5 separate regions of the Homo sapiens genome follow, and all the other regions are linked to region 1. Evidence: fine-mapped expression QTL. A gene starts in region 1. Each other region holds a variant in brackets. All regions are shown on one strand. Distances are from middle to middle.

Region 1 (4,118 bases):
TTTAAAATTTTAGAAAAACAAAAGCACTCCAATTTTTAAGTATTTAACACAAAACTATTGTTCCCATTACTTTCTCCATAGTTCTCACCACATTCACTACCTCCAAGACTATTCACGGCCAGTCCTCACTAGTAGCAACAAATAACAGATTTGCAGCAGATTATGAAAAATGGGGCTGGCAGAAATGCTGAGGAATTTTTGAAGGTTTGGTGGAGGGAGGGGCAGTGGAGAACAGAACTGCTTTAGTTCTTTGCCTGGCTCTTAAAGTTTGTTTCAAATTGCTATGTTGCCCCAAATTATAAATTGCTTATGTAATTTAACGTGCAAAAAGTGGGTGCACTGTTTAAGAATTTTTCATTTGAGTAAATGAGCTTTCAAAGGAAAATCTCAAAGGAAAAACTTTTAAGTAACTTACTTGACTATAAACTGAGCTTTCCAGGTATTCCTAAAAAACATCTTTGACTGTAATAGGTGAAGGCTAGTCAAGTGCATTCTCGATCAAAAGAGAGAAAATCTACATGCTGAATGGAAATAGAAACCTTTTAGCTGAGAGAAAATACTTGGAATGTGTTTATTTAGCATTTTTCCCCTTTCTTTTTCTTTTGGGTAAAGCCTGGTAAGTTTATTCCAGCCTCCTCAAGAAGTGCATCAGCGATCAAACTTGAAATCTGTTCATCACTCACTCCCCAAATAAGCTGTTCAAGCAGAATGAAACCGGCCTTCCTTGCCTCCACGTATCAGTCCAGCATCTTGTATTAAAATGCCTGGAACAAGCCGGGCGCGGTGGCTCACGACTGTAATCCCAGAACTTTGGGAGGCCAAGGAGAGCAGATCACGAGGTCAAGAGATCGAGACCATCCTGGCCAACATGGTGAAACCCCGTCTCTACTAAAAATACAAAAATTAGCCGGACGTGGTAGCGCGCGTCTATAGTCTCAGCTACTCGGGAGGCTGAGGCAGGAGAATCGCTTGAACCCGGGAGGCGGAGCCTGCAGTGAGCCGAGATCGCGCCGCGGCACTCCAGCCTGGGCGACAGGGCGAGACTCGGTCTCAAATTAAAAAAAAAAAAGCCTGTAACAACACTTCGCTGAATCCAGATAAACGTAAACGCTGCCGAGCACTGTAAGTTCTGTTCTGCCATAACAGGAGTGAAAAGAACGCTCCCCTTTTCCCACACTCTCTGGGTGCCCCTAAAAAGGGATACTAATAATGCCCGTAAGGGCCCATTGGGAGCAGCCAGGACTGCCGTCCCCCCCTGGCCCGTCGCTCGGCCTCAGTCTATCGCGGCTCCCGGACTGCGGCTCCGACTCCCGCAGCCCGTTCGTTCGCCCCGCGCCGGTCCCTCGGGAGACCGGATCTGTGGCCCCCGGGACTCCGGCCAGAGCGGGGCCCCACCATGCAACTCTAGTGGAAAGTTCTCGTCGCATCCCAGACCAGACCTGCTACCTACGTTCCACTCGTCGGAACTTCAGGACTTGCAGCGCGCCCGGCCGAGCTCGATTTCCTCCTCTGCGGTGAAGAGGGGAGCCTGCAACGCCGACCCCGACCCGGCTTCACCACGATGCGCACCCGCAAGCCAGGCTGGGTGCCCTCGGGACGCTTGAGGCGCCGCGGTCAGTGGACGGTAGGTTCGCCTACGCCCCCTCCTCTGGCACCGCAGTGGGTGGAGGGTGTTTGCAAACTTGTCCAGCAGCCAGGCGCGCCCCTGTGGACGCGCTCCCTCCCCAGAGGCCCCTGCTTCCTCCTGGGAGCCCCCACCCCCTCGCCTGGCCCCCAGCCGGGCGCACTCACCTCTACGCCAGAGCGCGGGGAGGAAGAGGCCCAGCAGCAGCGGCAGCGGGGCCGGCCCCATCCCGGGGCTGCGGATCTGTAATTTCTCTCCGGACGGATGGACAGATGGACGTCCCGAACCTGTCCTGTCGCCGGCCAAGCGCGCCAGCGAAGCTCCCTGTCCGGGCGGCCCGGGCAGTGAGTGCCGAGTGGCGGAGCCAAGCGGCCGGCGGGAGGTGCCGAGGGCTGGAAGGGGCGGGCCGGGGGCCGAGCCGAGGCCGGCCGGGGCTGGAGGAGAGGAGCGGGCAGGGGGGCGAGTCCCGGCGGGCCCAGCAGGTTGGGGTGGGAGGGGGCGGGAGGACGAGGGGGAGGAGGGGCGTAAAGGGGAAAGGGAGGGGGTTGGAGAGAAGGGGCGGGCCGAAGGCCGCCGCTGGGCAGACGGCGGGGAAGGGGGCGGAGAGGAAGGGGAGGGGGCTGAGAGACCCGGAGGGAGCCGGAAAGAGAAGTGAAGGGGAGGGGTGGACTGGAGGTCCACAGCGGAAGGCTCTGGCCGCTGCGCGGGTCCGGGGCCCCACACGTGTGGGTGGGAGATGGGGAAGGACAGAAGGTGGGAGAGGAGTAGAGGATGCCCGAGGCAGCCCCCAGACCCAAGAGGAGGGTCCAGAGGCGCCCCCGCATTCCGGGCTTGGCTGACACAGAAAACCCTGGCCGCGCCGCTCCCAGAGGCCAAGGCCAGGGCGGCAGCGCTCCCTGCCGAGCGCTCCTCCACATCCATTCCGCTCGCCGCCGAGCGCCGCCTGGGTACCCGGCCCGAGGTGCGCGACACGGCCCTGGCGGCGAGGAGCTCACCTCCCCAGGGGGAGGGGTTCCTGGGAAAGGACGCTTTGCCGTGGCTCCGTGACGAGCCAGAGAGAGGTGACACTCAAGGAGGGAGATGAACGTGAATGACAAAGTGCAGAGCAGGAGTGGGGAGAGGGGGAACCACAGCACGTCACTCTCATGGGCCTCCACAAGGTGTGCAGGGTCCAAGAGGCAGTAGCAGAGAGTGAGTCGTAAGAGAAATGTAACTACTTACGCTAATAATGGCAACAGTAACTTAATTTATATACGTAGTTTCTTAAAGGTAACACTTTTAGAATGAATGTATTTTAATGTGGTCCCTTTAACAACATAACATAAGCCAAATCATGTCCCTCTCCTCAAATCTCCCTAAACCTATCAGTGGTTCCTGCTGTCTCTGCGTACGTAAGCCAAGGTTCTGCAGTGGTCTACGAGGTTCTACGTGACCTGGTCCCCTTTCCTCTTTGGCCTCATCTCCTTACGCCTCTTCAATTTACGTTGGTCTCGTCAAGCGGTCCCTTGACCCCTACACTGGCTGGACACTTCCCGTAGATTTGGCTACGGGAAGGAGACAGGCAGCCCAGATGGGTTTAGACAGGTTATTACTTACACCGACAGCAAAAGCAAAATCAGTGTGGTGTCAGCTCCATGCATCCTTAGGCCTACAAGATAACACCAAACTGGAAGGGTCAGTGTTATCCTATGGGTCTACATAATTTAACAAAAATAAATAAATAAATAAATAAATAAATAAGACAACATGAGCCCTGCCGCTGAGTAGCCAAGTCTAAATTACACCAAGCAGTTTTATAGACTTCACAGGAGCCTGCCGCTGTATGCTTGGAGGGAAGCGGGCTGGGCGGTGGAGGGAGGGATATGGAAAGTCCTGCAGTCAACTGAAACGTTGGAGAAGGAAGAGAAATGGCCTTGCAGCAGTCTCCCATGGGGTAGGGATAGGAAACTGCCTACCAGTGGCTCCTCACCAGGCTTACCCATCCCTGCTTTAGGGGAAATCACAGGGCAGTCCAACAAGACTTGGGTCAGACCGTGGTCATACCTTGCCTACATGGCCTCGAGAGATGTGCAAGATTGCCAAGGACACCTCGGCAGAGCTGTTCTCCTGCAATTTCCTTGCTATTGCTCACATATACCAAGCACTCCTCCGCCCAAAGGTTTGCACTGGCTGTTCTCTCTGCCTGAAATGCTCTTCCCCTAGACACACAGCTTCCCAGTTGGCTCTCCTCCAAGTCAGCTCAAATCTCACTTTCTTGTTGAGGCCTGCCTTGTACAATACTCTTCAGCTATCTACCGGTGTTTGATATACCACCCCAAACATAGTGGGAGTAAAATGTCAGCCATTTTATTAGATTCCTGAATTCTGTGGATCGGAGGTTTGGACAGAGCACAGGGGAAATAGGTTGTCCTTGCTCCTCCATATCTGCCTGGGACCTTAGGCTCAAATGGTTGGGGATTAGAATCATGTAAAGTAAATTATAACCTGCAGGCCT
Region 2 (4,118 bases), 160 kb before region 1:
CAAAGTTGTTAAAGGACTACAACGTCCTCCAGCACTCAAAAATGTGAAATTCACAATATGCACCGACCAAACAAACAAAAAGCCTGCTTGGATTTTGGCTGGGATTAAACTGAACTTATAGATCAATCTGGGAAGAACTGACAGTATGATGTTTGCTACAGATTTTTCATAGATGCCTTTTATCAGGTTGAGGAAGTTTCCTTCTATTTCTAACTTTCTTTGAGTTTCTATCATGAATGGGTGTTGAATTTTTTTCAAATGCTCTTTCTGTATACTTTGAGATGATCATATGGTTCATTTCTTATATTCTGTTAATATGGTGAATTACATTGAGATATTTTTTAGCACAGGCTCCACATGACTTGAATGAGACAGCAGAAGAGAGGTTGCCTTAAAAAAGCCAGATATCTGATCTCCCAAACAGCATCGACATATATCCAAGGGACCAGTCCTTAGCTTAACAAGCACTAAAATCTGGCTCTGTGAAAACACAGATTCTCATCTCACCCTTTCCCAATGGTAGATGTGTACATTAGAATGCTCAATTACTCACTTTCATGATTACCATGTAGATGTATAAATTAGAATACTCAATTACTCACTTACAATGAACAGAAACCGTAAACTGGACTAGTAATGATCAACTCTTTCCCTTCAGCATGCCTCCCTGGAGGCCCAATACGGATGAGAAGGTGGTTTGGTGAGCATGGCACCAGACCAAGGAGGCTCAGGTGGATGCTATATCCACAACTGCCAGCCCCATGTCATAGCTGTGGTCATGGTTCAAGAAAACCTCTCCCCCAACAATGCTGTTGGACATGACCAGCATTTGCCTGACTAAACCCTAGTTTTATTATGCTTTTGCTCTTAAATCCCTCATGCTGTCCCATTCTTTCTTTAGATAAGTTAATAACAACGTCTTGATTGTAGTCTACTCATATGTTGATCTCAGGCATTTGTAATGATTTTTAAAAATCAAATTCTGTTTCAGTGGCTGACGTTACTTTTTTTTCCATATAACTTTTTGTCAGCACCAGACTGAGATTCTTTTAAATCCTTTGTCTAGACTTTGAGACATGAATTCATTAAATAAACAGATGCCAAAATTTTTTTCTCTCTCACCTTGGACTTCAATTTCCTCTTACCAAGCTCTTATCACAACTGATGATTGATATTACAGAGCTGCTTGAAACCACCTCTGCTTTCTAGCTGCTGGCTAGCCTGACTTCCCTCAGGAAAGACCCATAAAAGGAAGAATTGCCCCCAACAAATGAGCAGAGCATGATCTGTTGTGTGAAAGGAAAGAGGCATGACTTTGGATCCTGTAGAAGCCAGTTTGCTCTACCCAGCAAAAAACTGCTCCTTATCCTGAGACTTTAACTCTGGCAACCAATTTTCCTAGTTAGGTTACTGGAAACAATAAGAGGAATTGGGCCACAATGAATACGATCCAATGAAAATCCAGTGAAATTCTTAAAAAACCTTGGTAGTTCTGGTATCTCAGTATTGACACAGAAAAGACAGGCCCTACCTAATGAATATTTTAACTTTTATCAACCTTAAAACTCTAATTAAAATGTTGTCCAGCAATTTTTACTTCTTACGAGGATATGTACGTTTTGAAAATTTTCAAGGCCATAAAGGGTTTATCACAATCATGACATTTCATATATTCGTAAAAGCAATTTATCTAGTTTTAAAAATCTGAGACTCAAAGTTAAATTTCACAAAAAACAAATTTTTTTTGTTCGTCTATTAGACTTTAATTATAATTTTCATAAAATGATTCACATTACATTTTCTGAAAGAAGATCAGAAAAATCCATTCTTGTGGGCCATGCACAGTGGCTCATGCCTGTAATCCCAGCACTTTGGGAGGCTGAGGTGGGTGGATCACCTGGGGTCAAGAGTTGGAGGCCAGCCTGGCCAACATGGTGAAACCCCATCTTTACTAAAAATACAAAAATTAGCTGGGCGTGGTGGCGTTCGCCTGTAATCTCAGCTACTAGGGAGGCTGAGGCAGGAGAATCACTTGAACCTGAGAGGCGGAGGTTGCAGTCATCCGAGATCTTGCCACTGCACTCCAGCCTGGGTGACAGAGAAAGACTCTGTCTCAAGAAAAAAAAAAAGAAAAATCCATTCTTGTAAATAACCAAGTGCTGACTGAAACAAAACAAAACCTTAAAATGTTAGAACTACTTAAAAACAAAACATTTGCTTAGTTTATTATATATGTTATATTCATTTACATGAATGTATTTGTTTATATTATGTTGTTTATATATATATTAGTATTTCATTATTCTTGTTTGTTTGTTTTTGAGACAGAGTCTCACTGTGTCGCCCAGGCTGGAGTGCAGTGGCGCGATCTCGGCTCACTGCAAGCTCTGCCTCCCGGGTTCAAGTGATTCTCCTGCCTCAGCCTCCCAAGTAGCTGGGACTACAGGTGCCCACCACCATGCCCAGCTAACTTTTTTTGTATTTTTAGTAGAGACGGGGTTTCACTATGTTGGCCAG[G/T]CTCGTCCTGAACTCCCGACCTTGTGATCCACCTGCCTCGGCCTCCCAAAGTGCCGGGATTACAGGCGTGAGCCATTGCGCCCAGTCTAGTATTTTATTGTTTTATTATACTTACCAGATAACTTGATATCTGTAGAGTTAAACATAGTTTTCCTAAATATCAAAGGTCCTGATTTCTAAAATGAAAAACAAACACAGGAAGATCTTGTTAGAAAGTTTTTTTTGCAACTGTTTTACCCCACAACATATAGAGTTCTAAGCCTTGCACTCCTCTCTCTGACAAGAGTATTTTTTTAACGTAAATCTGATCACATCACTAACTTGCTTAAAACCTTGTCATGGTTCTACTTCCTGCAGTTACCCTGAGGATCAGGAGGGCTCTGGCCTCTAGCAGACTCAGTTAGGGCCAGTGACACATAAGAGGTAAAAGATGCTGCCATTGCAGGATTAGTGCTGCTCAGACGTGACATGAACTGACTGCATTTGCATGTTGCTCTCCTGGCGTCAATTTGAATGTACTTTTGATAAGGAACTGTCCCCCTCTCCCAGCTCCAAGTCGTTATGGTTTACCAATGCAATTACAACAGACCGAAATTCTTACTGTAGCCTATAGGACGTGAATAATCAAGTCCTGCCCACCTCTCAACTTTCCAGTTCCAGAAAAGCATGATATTCTTTCCTGCCCTCAGGATTAGTGGTCAACCTGAAAAATTTACTTTAAAATCCTTCCTTTCACCCTTTGTTCATCTAGTTGGCTCCTTCTCACCCTTCAAAGCCCAGCTCAAAAGCCCGTTCTGCAGGAATTCTTCCACTGTGGCCCATATCCGGCCAGGCCCTCCCTTATATAATCCCTAGCACCCTTTCTTCTTCACAACCTTTCCACAATTTAAATCAAATAATTGATTAGTTGTTTAATGTCTTCTCAGGAATAAAAATCCTGCAGTTAGAGACTGTGTTAAATGTACAAATGATTAGGCATTAAAAACAAAACAAAACAAAACAAAAAACACTGATAGGACAAGTGGTAACCTCTTCCCTTCCCCAACAGAGTTTCAACAACAACAATAAAATTCCCAACTTGGATCCTTCCTTTGAGCTCCAGATCCAAATACCCAACTGCCTAAAGGACATGTCCACTGACAGATGTCCAACAGACAAACCTGTTTTAAACCAGACACACTCCTCTCTGCTCACCAACTTTTCCTACATTGTCCACCTTGGCTGGAGGTGGTACCATCTACAGTCACCCAAGCCATGGCTCCTTCCAGTTCCCCACTTCCATCACCCAATCCCCAAGGCATGCCTACTTTATCTCACAAACATTTATCAAATTTAGTTCTTCCTCTCCATCTCTGTCACCACTGCCCTAATTTAGGCCCTCTGCATTTCCTGCCTAATTTCTGCAATAGCTTAACTGGTACTTCTACCTCCAGATCTGATCCTATAATTCATCTTTAGACAGCAGCCATAGTGATTAGCATTATGTCTAAGATCTTTCAATGGCTCCCTCATTCACATCCTAAAGTAGCTACTGGGAGTCTGGAGGTCTAATCCAACCTAAAAATGGGATATACTGGGCCCACAAGAGGCCTTTTTAAAAC
Region 3 (4,118 bases), 23 kb before region 1:
CCCCCTGTTTTTCCCCCACAGAAGTGGAATACTCTCAAAATTATTTTTGGGTAGTGATTGCAGATGAATTCAGACTGAAAGGCTTACCCACATCAAAGACTTAATGCAAATGTGGTCCTTTCTACACAGCACATGGAAAAGTGGGGTGCCTCTGGTTGTAATTTGGGTGGAATTCACAAGAAATCTCCACCTTATCCCTCCCACCTTCTTCCAGGATTGCTTCCTCATGTGGACTGGATAAACAGCTGGAGTGGAATTTTAACTTCACATAAACGAGTGCTGCTAAGCTGCCTTGGATCACTAGCCTCCCACTCAGGTCCCAGAGTAGCCGCCCAGCTGCTCCAGCAGCTGCATTTACCAACTCCAGGGGCCACTCCATCCAGTCCTGGACTTGTGTGGTGCAGCACCCCTGCACTGTGCCCATGTGTTTCCAATCACCATGCAGCCCTTGACCAGAGCCCTAGCGTCCGCTTCTTAAAGTCAGGGCTTTTGTCTCCATCATCTTTCTTCAGCACCCAGTACAGGACAGGCCCAAGGGACCTGATTAGTGAATGTTTATTCACATACTGCCCATTTTTCTGTGTGAGTTTGCCCTGTTTTTCTGAACATACTTGTCTGTAACTTCCTTGAAGGCTGGAGGTGGCATCATCTGAACCCATCATGATGATTGGCATGGAGTCACATGCAGCAAACATTTACAGAATAAACGGGTGTGACGTGCAGAGGTCCTGAAGGGTGAGCAGGGAAGAGAGGTGGTCCAGGCAAGGACACTGCTGTGGCTGGAGACAGAACTTGGAGAGGCTGTCAGCATGCCTATGACACACAATTACAGTGGCTCAGACATTTAGGGACTTTGTGAATAGTCTCTTAGACTCAAAATTCGTTCATTAGGGCAAGCCAGTAAAGAATGTTATTTTCCATGTGATCAACTAGTGCATCCTACCCTCAAATCCATGAATCCTTGCTGAGCACTTGTCAAATGCAGTGTGCAAAGGCAGAAGGGCTGGTGGGCAGTGCTGCTCAGAGGTTAGCTAGCAGCTTTGCAGTCAGAGGGCTGAGGCCCACCCAGTCCCTCACCACCTCAAGGTATGGCCTCAGGAAAGCTCTATAACTTCTTTGAACTCTTGTGAGGACAAGAGGATCTCAGCAGTAGGAGCTGATAGGCATCGAGTCCACCAGCACACTCCAAAAATATTGGCTGACATGGCTGTTACTGGCTTGCATCTGAACCCTGGCCTGCTGGCCACCTAAAGTAGGAATTTCTAAAGCCAGGTCTGGGCCCTGCGGGGATAAGGGCTGAGTTTAATTAGTGATGTCTGCCTTGGACAATGCATGGGGAAGGGCAATACTAGAGTAATATAATTGCCAGCCATGAGTGAGAGGAAAAAATATACATCGGGCTTGGGATGCGAAGGGCTCTTAGCTCTAAGGCATCTCTCAATCTCTCCAGGGATGGTCTCCACCAGCCTTTCCTAACATGAGCTCCTTTGATTTTCTTGAAGCTTGGTGATCACAGCCCAAGGTGATCACCGAGGTGACTAAAGAAAGCAGCAGCAACTGAAATTGCAGGTCCCATGATAGTGGGTGGGGATGTGGCAGCAAGCAGCCTCCCTGGCCCTGGAGTCCCTCCATGCTGTGGGAAGAGGGTTGAGCAGGGCAGGTGGCAGCCCTGTGGGACTGAGGGTGCTGGCTGGTGAACCCTGTTCAGTTCCACCCCACCCCAGCTACCCCAGGATGCTGTGTGCCATCAGCCTGCTTTATGATCCCAGGCACCTGGGAAGAGAGAGGAATAGCTCCTCTACCAGAGTTACAGTAATGGCAGGAGTGAGTGCCAGCCTGTGGGACCCATTACTCCTGCTCTTTCTATTCCTTCCCCAACAATAAAATGGGCAGAAGCATCAGCTGAGCTCTCTAAAGTTCAGCCTCAAACTCAAGAGGCCCAGGCTAGGCGTGGTGGCTCCCAGCACTTTGGGAGGCCGAAGCGGGAGGATTGCTTGAGCCCAGGAGTTCAAGATCAGCCTGGGCAACAGAGTGAGACAAGTCTCTACCAAAAATAGAAATAAAAGAAAAACGAGGCCCAGAGGAGGCTGCAAA[A/C]GAGTGAGGGCTTATCTTTCAGTTCCTAGAGGTTCTTTGCTTCCCAACTCAAGCACACATGAACATATGGCACATAAATGCATGGCCAAGAGGATGCACCTTATTCCAGAGGTATGCTGTTTCCTCACCAGTCTTGCTGTCTGCTGAAGGTATTTGCTATCAAACAGCCCTACAGCCCTTCTGCAGGTGGGTTTGTGATTTAGAGAAAGGCTTTTTTTTTTTTTTTGAGATCGCGTCTTAGTCTGTCACAGCCCAGGCTGGAGTGCAGTGGTGTGATCTCAGCTCACTGCAAACCTCGCCTCCAGGGTTCAAGCAATTCTCCTGCCTCAGCCTCCTGAGTAGCAGGGACTACAGGCAGGTACCACCATGCCCAGCTAATTTTTGTATTTTTAGTAAAGACCGAGTTTCACCATGTTGGTCAGGCTGGTGTCGAACTCCTAACCTCAGGTGATCTGCCCGCCTTCACCTCCCAAAGTTCAGAGAAAGGCTTTTGCATCTGGAATCCTGTAAATGCTGGTATCCCTGTTTCCCTACCCTCTCTAGGAGAAAACGCAGAACCTAGACCAGTGCCCCCACCCCACATTCTGTGTGCACACACCAGGCTGATATTTGAATCATGTCCTGAGCAGCTGCCCTGTCACCCAGGTTAAGGACTCCCACCCCACTCCCTTTACCCCCACAGCTAGCTGAGGCCAAACATAGCACAAAAGGAAATTTTCTACTTAGTACTATTTATGCAATACCCAAAGGATTCCTGATTGATAAAGTGTAGTGGCCAGTCGCAGTGGCTCACGCCTGTAATCCCAGCACTTTGGGAGGCCGAGGCGGGCAGATCACCTGAGGTCAGGAGTTCAAGACCAGCCTGGCCAACATGGCAAAACCCTGTCTCTACTAAAAAATACAAAAAGTAGCCAGGCCTGGTGGCAGGCGCCTGTAATCCCAGCTACTCGGGAGGGTGAGGCAGGGAGAATTGCTTGAACCCGGGAGGCAGAAGTTGCAGTGAGCTGAGATCACGCCACTGCACTCCAGCGTAGGCAACACAGTGAGACTCTGTTTCGGAAAATAAATAAATAAATAAATAAAATAAAGAGTAGCAACACTTCATTAGAAGAAAAACAAACAAACAGAGTAGCAACACTTCATTAGAAGAAAAAGAAAAAAAAAAAACAACCTTCAATCAGAACTCACTTGACCTGATGGATCAGTCCTAAATTGCAAATGGTAATTATTAACTTCACTGGAGTGACCCTTGGGCCACTTGGAGAATGTTAAAGGAGGAAGAGGCGATCACGCCACCCATTTGCCCTAAGTGTAGCAAAGCCCTGCAAGAGAAAGCGGGTGGCTGGCTCTGAGTCAGTGCTGGAGAGAACAGGCCTGGCGCTTGCAGGAAGGAAAGGAAGTAAATGGCTGGGCAGTGTGTGCCCCAAGAGGTCACAGCCCAGCCACAGGAGGAGAAAAGCCCAAGTGCCAGTGAAAGCCCAGAAATGCCTGCACGGTGGAAGGAACGTGAAGTTGCCTGTAAAACACGGTGTTGGCATTGGGTTGCCAGATAAAAAACAGTACAGCCCTTTACACCTGAATTTCAGATAAGCAACCAATATGGGAACACCCCGGATTTACTTAGAGGAACAAATATAACTTAGTATCATTTAGTCAAAACCAGCTGGAGCCACAGCACTAGGGATTTCATTGTTGCCCTTCCCACAGGCTGCTTCTTGGGGCTTAGAGCAGCATGGAGAGTGGGTCTGGAGGGGCAAACAGGGACCTGGCACACCAGGAAAGCTATCCAACCTCTCTGAACCAAGGCTTGCAGCATGAAGGGGCTGAGACATCTGAGCAAAAGCACAAGGGGCTTGCTTATCAGTGGGGTGACCTTCCTACTGCCCCTGGCCCAATACATTCCTTTTGGCTCAAAAAAAAAAAAAAAAAGAAAAGAAAAAGAAAAAACATCAAAAAACAAAATGAGCAGAGGTACCTCTCTGCTTGGCCTTGAACACACATGTTAGCAGGGCAAGCCCCAAGGG
Region 4 (4,118 bases), 130 kb before region 1:
AGGCCAAGAAGTGATAAGGCCTAGACTGCCTTTCTTTGCAAGATCCCAATGCCCAGAACAGGGCCTTCCTCTCAGTGAATATTTGCAAATGGATGAGTGGGTTATAGGTGACCTCATATGATTGTTGTTCGAAAACACTTTCTTCATTAGAATGTTTAAGTGTATAGTCTCAATAAATCTATTAATTAACAGTTATCATGTCCTTAAGGAATAGAAAGAGTTAATAGATATAATTCTCTGGTTTCTCTTTCATATATCTATCCATGGAATCCCATTTAAATAAGAGAGATTGTATGTAAAAATATTCTAAAATAGTGGTCCACAGGTTACAGTTTCTAGAAGTAATTATTACATTTATTTATTTTGAGACAGGGTCTCTGTTGCCCAGGCTGAAGTGCAGTGGCATGATTATGACTCACTGCTGCCTCGACCTCTGTGGCTCAAGTGATCCTCCCACCTCAGCCTCTGAAGTTGCTGAGACTGCAGGCATGTGGCACCATGCCCAGCTAATTTTTGTGTTTTTTGTAGAGATGGGATTGCACCATGTTGCCCAGACTGGTCTTGAACTCCTGGGCTCAAGCAATCCTCCCACCTCTGCCTTCCAAAGTGCTGATATTACAGGCATGAGCCACCATGCCCAGAATTATTGCATTTAAATAACAAAAAATTAAGTAATTATATATGCCTTTTAAAGTTAAATAGAATGGGAGTTTTGCTGCTATTCTCACTTAGAGCTTTAAAAGAAAGAAAATAAAATCTAAGGATAGGAACATTGTGCATCATTGAAACATTTATTAAAGAAAACAAAACTTCCCATTTTCTCATTTGTCACTCAGTTACTAAACATCTTTAGAGAAGTTAAGTTGCTGTTGTAGCTAGTTTATTATTGGGTCAGTTACTTTCCCACGGACTCAGCAGAAGTTCCAACTTGCTTTTGCCATTGACCAGGAAAAGTTACAAAAGTCTTGACTTTCATGAATCAGAACTGGTCTGGCTAGAATCAGCCTGCTCTGTAAAAGAAGAGACTGTGGTTTGGCCCATTTCCCAGGTGGGGAACCTCTGCTAGGTCTGGCAGACATGGAGGCAGAGAGGGAATATCCCCTTCCTGGGATAGCATTCTGACCCACCACATGTCCCCAAATGCTCCTGGTAAAGCAAGCCACCATTGCTTGTCATAACCCACATATTGGGGAGAGGCGCAATGAGGCTTGTATCATCAGTAGCTAAACCCCAGGATAGACAAGAGGAAGGTAGTTCCAGCTCCTGAGCCCAGTGGCTGTTTGAGGTGAGGACTGAGGGCCTCCTCCTTCACTCTGAACTTCCCCAACTGTGCGTTTCTGGCTAAGGCGAAATACTATCTCTTTCTCTTTTCAAATTATGAATGACTGTGTTTATTTTGGAGGGAGTTGATGAAACAATCAGGGAAAATGTTTCTTTTTCTTTTTTTTTTTGAGATGGAGTCTTGCTCTGTTGCCCCATCTAGAGTGCCATGGTGTGATTACAGCCCAGTGCAGCCTTGAGCTTTGAGGCTCAAGTGATCCTCCCACCTCAGCTTCCTGAGCAGCTGGGACCACAATTGCATGCCACCATCCCTGGCTAATTTCTTTTTTATTTTTTATAGAGACAGGGTCTCCCTATGTTGCCCAGGCTGGTCTTGAACTACTAGGTTCAAGCAATCCTCTCTCCTCGGCCATCAAAAGTGTTGGGATTACAGGCGTGAGCCACCACGCCTGGCTGAAAATATTTTGAATATGACAAATGTTGCTGGGTTTGCACTGCATAAGGAATGATGCCACAAATTGAGAACAGCCTCTTGTGAGTATAATATTCTTTCGAAGACCTTGCCTCCTCCCCTTCTTACACAGGGTGTTGCAGAAAAAGGCATTGGTATGTTTACTGAACACTTGAGAAAACTGGGGCTCAAGGAAAGTCAAGTGACCTGCCCACGATTGCCCAAGGACATCTGGCAGGGTGAGCTCCTATCCAGCCCACCTCTGACCATATGGCCTGGCTCACCATGAAGAGTGCTTTGGTGTCTTTTTTTTTTTGTTTTCCAAGAGTTGCCCTGACGCTTGATTCTCATTTCTACTCATTAAGAAAAGCAACAGAAAGGAAAAAAAAAACAACACAAAAGAAAGAAAATCCTCACAAGGGAGGGCAAGTCTCAACGTGCCAGTCACGAGTGCTTCTGGCATATGTCTGTTTCCTTGTCCTTTCGACCTCCTGATCCTGAGCCCCAGCACGGTTAAGACAATTAACCCGACTTGTTTCTTCCTGTTTCCTCTCTCCCTTTTTTTTGCCTACAAGAGCCACTTACAAAAGTAATTTGAGTTTCTATGAAAGAGAATTTGAAACGCTGTTTTCAGTTTATGCTCAGAAGACAGTATGAGAGTTTGCCAATGACTGGATCATCTGAAAGTTAGTTCTTTCCAAATTTTCAAATATTCAGATGTGGCTAAGAAGAACACCAACATTCTCAG[T/C]GCGGAGATTTAAATGTGAAGAACAATGGTAGCCCAGCTTCATTCTCATTCATCACACCACTTTTAACCAACACTTGGGTGCATCACGCTGTGTGCTGAAGTGAATTTCTCTGCTACGTTTCTTGATGTCTCAAGAAAAGCCAGAAGCCACAGCTGGCTCAGCTTTCTACACTCTCCTGCGGCAGAACTGGCCCGGGCTCCCCAGCCCTGCTCAGACCACACAGAAGATACTGGACAGGATTTAGAGGGCTGTGGGGTGTTTGATGAACTATTCATTGTACATTTTTTACATTATGCTGTTAAAATTAGAAATATAAAATACAAAGTACTGTATATGAGCATAGATATTTAATATTAAGTTTATATTAAACTTCCAAATAACATTTTTCAATGTTTATAATTACTTATTTTGCTCATAGATATGAGCATACCTTTCTATTTTGGGGTGGGTTTTTTTTGTTTGAACTAGTCACCATCAGGTTCTGATCAAGACTTTAATGATCAGTTCTTCAACTTCCTGCTACTTACCATCGATAAGAAACTGTTTATACAAGTAGGTGATAAATTTTTTTATTTTTTAATGACCAAAAATTTTCAACAGTGTAAGTTATCTTTATAGGAGCTACAGCTTTTTTTCTTTCACGAATAAAATGTAATGGTGGCATTTTACAGATTCTTTTCAAACCCTCAGAACTTTTTTTTTTAATTTTTAGAGACACAGTCTCCCTCTGTCACCCAGGCTAGAGTGCAGTGGCACAATCACAGCTCATTGTAACCTCAAACTCCTGGGCTCAAGTGATCCTCCTGCCTCAGCCTCCAGAGTAGCTAGGACTACAGGCACACACCACCATTTCTGGCTAATTTTTTCTTGTAGATATAGGGTCTCACTATGTCGTCCAGGCTGGTCTTGAACTCCTGAGCTCAAGTGATCCTCCTGCCTTGCCTCCTGAAGTGTTGGGATTACAGTTGTGAATCCCCACATCTGGCCAGAACTTTTTCATATGGAGCATTTCACAGTAACAGAGGAGCCGGCTCACCCTGGAGATTGGGTGCCTGGGTGGGCAGCTGGGACCAGAACCTGGGTGAGAGCCACACTGTTGGACCCCATGTAGATTCTGATTCTTGAAGACTGTGGGAGAGGCCTAGGCGAGGCTGCTTACTGGTGGGGAGTAAACAGGCCTGAAGATGCCAGTGGCTCTGGGCCTGCTCAGCTGCCCCGAAGGCTGGGAAATCAACAATTCAACTGACTGCATAATTCTGCTGCCCTTACTAGCAGCATAAGTTAGGCTCTTCCTGCCTCAGTCTGCCCATCTGTGAAGTGGAGATAATAGTAGTACCTATCTGGTAGTGTCGTTATGAAAATTAAATGAGTGCCATGCCTGGCACAGAGTAAGAGATATATGTTTATTAAATAAAGTAAAAATGTTGAGAAGCTCTGGAGTAGATTTCTAATATGGTTTTGATCTGTGTCCCCACCCAAACTTCTTGTTCAGTTGTAATCTCCAGCGTTGAAGGTGGGGTCTGGAGGGAGGTGATTGGATCATGGGGGTGGATTTCTCATGAATGATTTGGTATCTGCCCCTTGGTGCTGTTCTCGTGATACCGAGTGAGTTCTTGTGAGATCTGGTCGTTGAAAAG
Region 5 (4,118 bases), 62 kb before region 1:
TGGTCCTGAACTCCCGACCTCAGGTGATCCACCTGCCTTGGCCTCCTAAAACGCTAGGATTACAGGTGTGAGCCACCACACCCGACCTGAATGGTTATTTTTTAGAATTACAACTATACAAGTATTTACTATGTAGTTGAATCTGGAAACTTCTATATCTGTGGCACACAGAAACATCATCTGACATACAGTAGTATCTTCATAAAATTGTTGAAAATATGCCACCATTTGCTTCTTGGCAGAAAAGCTTATTTTGTGTCTTCTGTCTACATGTGTAGGAAATTTTCCATCAGATATTTTTAAACTCAAAGCTTATCACTAATAACAGTAATAAAATATTTGAAGAATGAAAGGGAAAAAAACTTGCTGAGGGAAGCACAGCAGGCATCAGCCTAGAAAAGCTGTTCCTGGTCGGATGTCTGCATGGCCACGACTGCGCCCCGGCTGCAGCCAAGTGGTCACTACATGGCAGAGAGCTGTGACTGAGAGACGCTGTAGAAAAAATGCATGTCTGATCCTTTTTATATTAGTGCTTCTCCTGAGGGGTTAAATGTGCATAAAAAAGAAAATCAGTGCTGGTGGGTTTTTGTTATTTTCCATCTAGATGGAAGGTTGTCACCAGTGTCTGCGTTTCCCTGACTACACACGGGTCCCTCAGGGAAAAGCAAACCCATACATCTCTGTCCTATGATTCGGTGGTAACCTTTCATTTCTTCAAAAATAACATGGTATTATGGAGAGGATTTGACTGCTACTTCACAGTATCTTAATTTTCAAAGACGAGGAATACTTCCCTCAGATGGGAGGAAACCCTAAGCTGGATTGCTTAATTAAATTCTCTTGAAAATTTAAAACGCCGGCCGGGTGCGGTGGCTCATGCCTGTAATCCCAGCACTTTGGGAGGCTGAGGCGGGCGGAGGTCAGGAGATTGAGGCCATCCTGGATAACACTGTGAAACGCTGTCTCTACTAAAAATACAAAAAAATTAGCCGGGCGTTGTGGCGGGCGCCTGTAGTCCCAGCTACTCGGGAAGCTGAGGCAGGAGAATGGCTGAACCTGGGAGGCGGAGCTTGCAGTGAGCCGAGATCACACCACTGCACTCCAGCCTGGGCGACAGAGCAAGACTCCATCTCAAAAAAAAAAAAAAAAAAAAAAAGAAAGAAAATTTAAAGTGCTAAGAAACAAAAACTCCTGGTAGAAGCCATCTACTTTCATATTTTGGTCACTTCTTCTCAAGTGAGGCATGAAACTGCTACTAGTTTGTGTAGTGAATTAGAAAATATTTATTGCACTGAGGAGGAATATTTCTCTCACACCCATTACACACACATCTATAAAAGGATCCCTGTGATACTCTGCCTCGGGGTCTTTATATCTTCTGCTTGTATTACTCCTAGAGAATTTTGAAAAATATACGTGGACTCTGACACATTTTGAAGTTTGCATCCTTAAATTTTTCGTAATTTAAACATCTTCAAAAAATGTAATTTGAGGTACCTTGAATATCTTGACACCAACACCCACTGTAACGACTCTTCCCCAGCAGCAAGTTTTCCACCATGACTCTTCTACCAGCCCCAAGAATTTCATCTTAATGGTACACATTTGAAAGTTTTTGCTTAAACCATGGGAACTTATTGGCAACAAAAACATATATATACCTTGAAATTGCAAAAATATTTTCTTCTGAATTGATTATACTCATTATTAGGATGCAATTAATCAAAACAATGTAAGTGATTCTTAAACATAAGTACAACTTTATTGGAAGAGCAATTTCTTTGCTGGACAAAATTTGGAATTTTCTTTTCTTTTTTTTTTTTTTTTTTTT[TG/G]AGACTGAGACTCGCTCTGTCACTCAGGCTGGAGGGCAATGGCATGATCTTGGCTCACTGCAACCTCCGCCTCCCAGGTTCAAGCGATTCTCCTGCCTCAGTCTCCCAAGTAGCTGGGATTACAGGCATGCACCACCACGCCCGGTTAATTTTTGTATTTTTAATGGAGACAGGGTTTTACCATGTTGGCCAGGCTGGTCTTGAACTCCTGACCTCAGGTGATCCACCTGCCTCAGCCTCCCAAAGTGCTGGGATTACAGGCGTGAGCCACCACGTCCAGCCAAAATTTGGAATTTTCTGTCTCTGGAAATTTCTTAACCCCAAGACAATGCACCACAGCAACCATTCTCAAAATATGGTCAAGAGACTTCTGGGGATTCCAGAGACCCCTTCTGTAGTCCTCAGAGTCAAAACTATTTTCATAATAATAATATATTGTTTGCTCTTTTAATTCTCATTATCTCAGGAATATATGATGGAATTTTCCAAAAGAATTTCCCAGAGGCTATATGATATATGATGATGCCATAGCATAGATGTATTAGCCAATGAAGTGTATGCTTGTGTATTTTTGTGTTTTAAAAGTTTTCAGTTTTAATTTCTAATTCAGTAAATATAGATAGATATGACCCACATAAACAAGAACTCTGGTTCTTGATAACTTATGACTGTAAAAGGATCTTGAGGCCAAGCACAGTGGGCTCACTCCTGTAATCCCAGCACTACAGGAGGCTGAGGCAGGAGGATTGCTTGAGTCCAGAAGTTCGAGAGTTCAAGTCCAGAAGTTGCCCCACCCTGGGGCAACATGGTGAAACCCCATCTCTACAAAAAACACAAAAATTAGCTGAGCATGGTGACATGCACCTGTATTCCCAGCTACTTGGCAGGTTGAGATGGCTGAATCACCTGAGCCTAGGAGGTTGAGGCTACAGTGAGCACTCCAGGCTGGGCGACAGAGTCAGGCTCTGTCACACACACACAAAAACAAACAAACAAAAAACCAAAAAGAAACAAACAAACAAACAAACGAAGGATCTTGAGACCAAAGCATTGAGAACTGATGCTTCATAGTGGTGATTCCAGACAAGCAAGAGAGGTCTTTTTTCTTTTGTAATGCAAGGAAGAGATGAAAGGAAAATAGGGAGGTGGAAAGGGAGAACTGGCGAAGTAACTGGACTTTGGGCACGTTGTCAAGCATTGATTTTAAGAAAGAAGATACATATAGGATGAGGATGGAGACACTGATCCCACTAAGGGGTCCATGCTCTGCTGATCACTGTTTCACAGTGAGGCCTTTAACACTTTGATTTTCATGCCTTGGCATCACTTTTAACCTTCCAGATCCTAAGCTCCCAAGTGATATGCCCATTTCAACCACCAGGCTGCATGAACTTGCAAAACCTGGCTTATATTTAGAAAAATTGGCCTTGGCTCAATCAGAAGATACAGGGAGTTACTAACTTACCTTTTTTATATATTGGAGGAGACATTGGCAGTTTAAAATTAGTCATTTGACTTCAATTATTATCAAAACTCTTAGGAAACCCTTGAATACAAACTACAAAATTACATTCCAAACTTGTCATAAGGGGAAGAGCCAGCCCTGTGGTAAAACCGGAGGTTTATTTCACTGAGATCCATTATCCAGTTATAGAACCTATAGTAGGATCCTATAGTAGCAGATTTCAGGCCCAGTGATCTTTAGTCCTAACAGGTTTATTAATGCTGAAAGGGAAACATTATCACAGAACATGACTTCAGGTCAAATGGACAGTCATTTCTCCTGTGTGTTTCTTTTCATAGTGCACCCAAGGTCAAAAAAACAATCTATAGCAAATGTCCTAGCACAAGACACCTACACCAAGTCTGAATTGCCTGGCAGTAACCACACAATGTATTAAAACAGTGTACAAGGTCAGGTGGTTGGTGCCCATAGGCCAAAGAGATACCAGTAGAGAGAAGAGGAAACTAGTTCAAACCAAAGGTAAATTTCTCCAAAACCAGACAGCACTTAGGGCCAAATATAGTCTTCTTTGCTTAATTTTTCAGCTAAACTTTAATGGCTTAATGGCACTGGCTTCCCAACTAGACACTCGTTTATAAGCCTGGATTGACCATAGCAATGAGTGTACACTAGGAGAAGACAGCTCCCTCTCACTCGCCAGTTCTCTCTGTGTGGATGAACAGTAACTACCAGACTGGAATAGACCTTGACATTTACAGCCCCAAACCCTTGTGACTTTCCAGGGAGAAAAAGCATCCAACTCCCTAAGTCTCCACCCTCCC

Evidence for each region. PIP is the estimated chance that this variant, and not a neighbour inherited with it, causes the effect.
Region 2: its variant is the best candidate, but not a certain one, in a credible set for the expression of MERTK in whole blood (INTERVAL, PIP 0.63).
Region 3: its variant is the best candidate, but not a certain one, in a credible set for the expression of MERTK in left ventricle (GTEx, PIP 0.77).
Region 4: its variant is the best candidate, but not a certain one, in a credible set for the expression of MERTK in fibroblasts (GTEx, PIP 0.86).
Region 5: its variant is the best candidate, but not a certain one, in a credible set for the expression of MERTK in monocytes (Fairfax 2014, PIP 0.83).

What each region holds. Positions count from the first base shown.
Region 1 is chr2:111,896,470-111,900,587 of GRCh38, reverse strand. MERTK (MER proto-oncogene, tyrosine kinase) reads right to left here and starts at 1,981. Exons shown (of 19, transcript NM_006343.3): 1 at 1,792-1,981. The coding sequence starts at 1,852. RefSeq lists an enhancer at 2,513-2,842.
Region 2 is chr2:112,058,552-112,062,669 of GRCh38, reverse strand. It overlaps TMEM87B (transmembrane protein 87B), which reads right to left. Exons shown (of 19, transcript NM_032824.3): 2 at 2,633-2,693. Among named protein-coding and RNA genes, the nearest start is that of TMEM87B, 5.3 kb to the right of the region's middle. RefSeq lists a silencer at 1,882-2,096. The variant G/T (reference allele first, on the strand shown) is at 2,518.
Region 3 is chr2:111,919,705-111,923,822 of GRCh38, reverse strand. All of the region lies in intron 1 of MERTK (MER proto-oncogene, tyrosine kinase), which reads right to left. Among named protein-coding and RNA genes, the nearest start is that of MERTK, 23 kb to the right of the region's middle. The variant A/C (reference allele first, on the strand shown) is at 2,095.
Region 4 is chr2:112,030,167-112,034,284 of GRCh38, reverse strand. No RefSeq gene overlaps it. Among named protein-coding and RNA genes, the nearest start is that of TMEM87B, 23 kb to the left of the region's middle. The variant T/C (reference allele first, on the strand shown) is at 2,481.
Region 5 is chr2:111,958,195-111,962,312 of GRCh38, reverse strand. All of the region lies in intron 4 of MERTK (MER proto-oncogene, tyrosine kinase), which reads right to left. Among named protein-coding and RNA genes, the nearest start is that of MERTK, 62 kb to the right of the region's middle. The variant TG/G (reference allele first, on the strand shown) is at 1,832.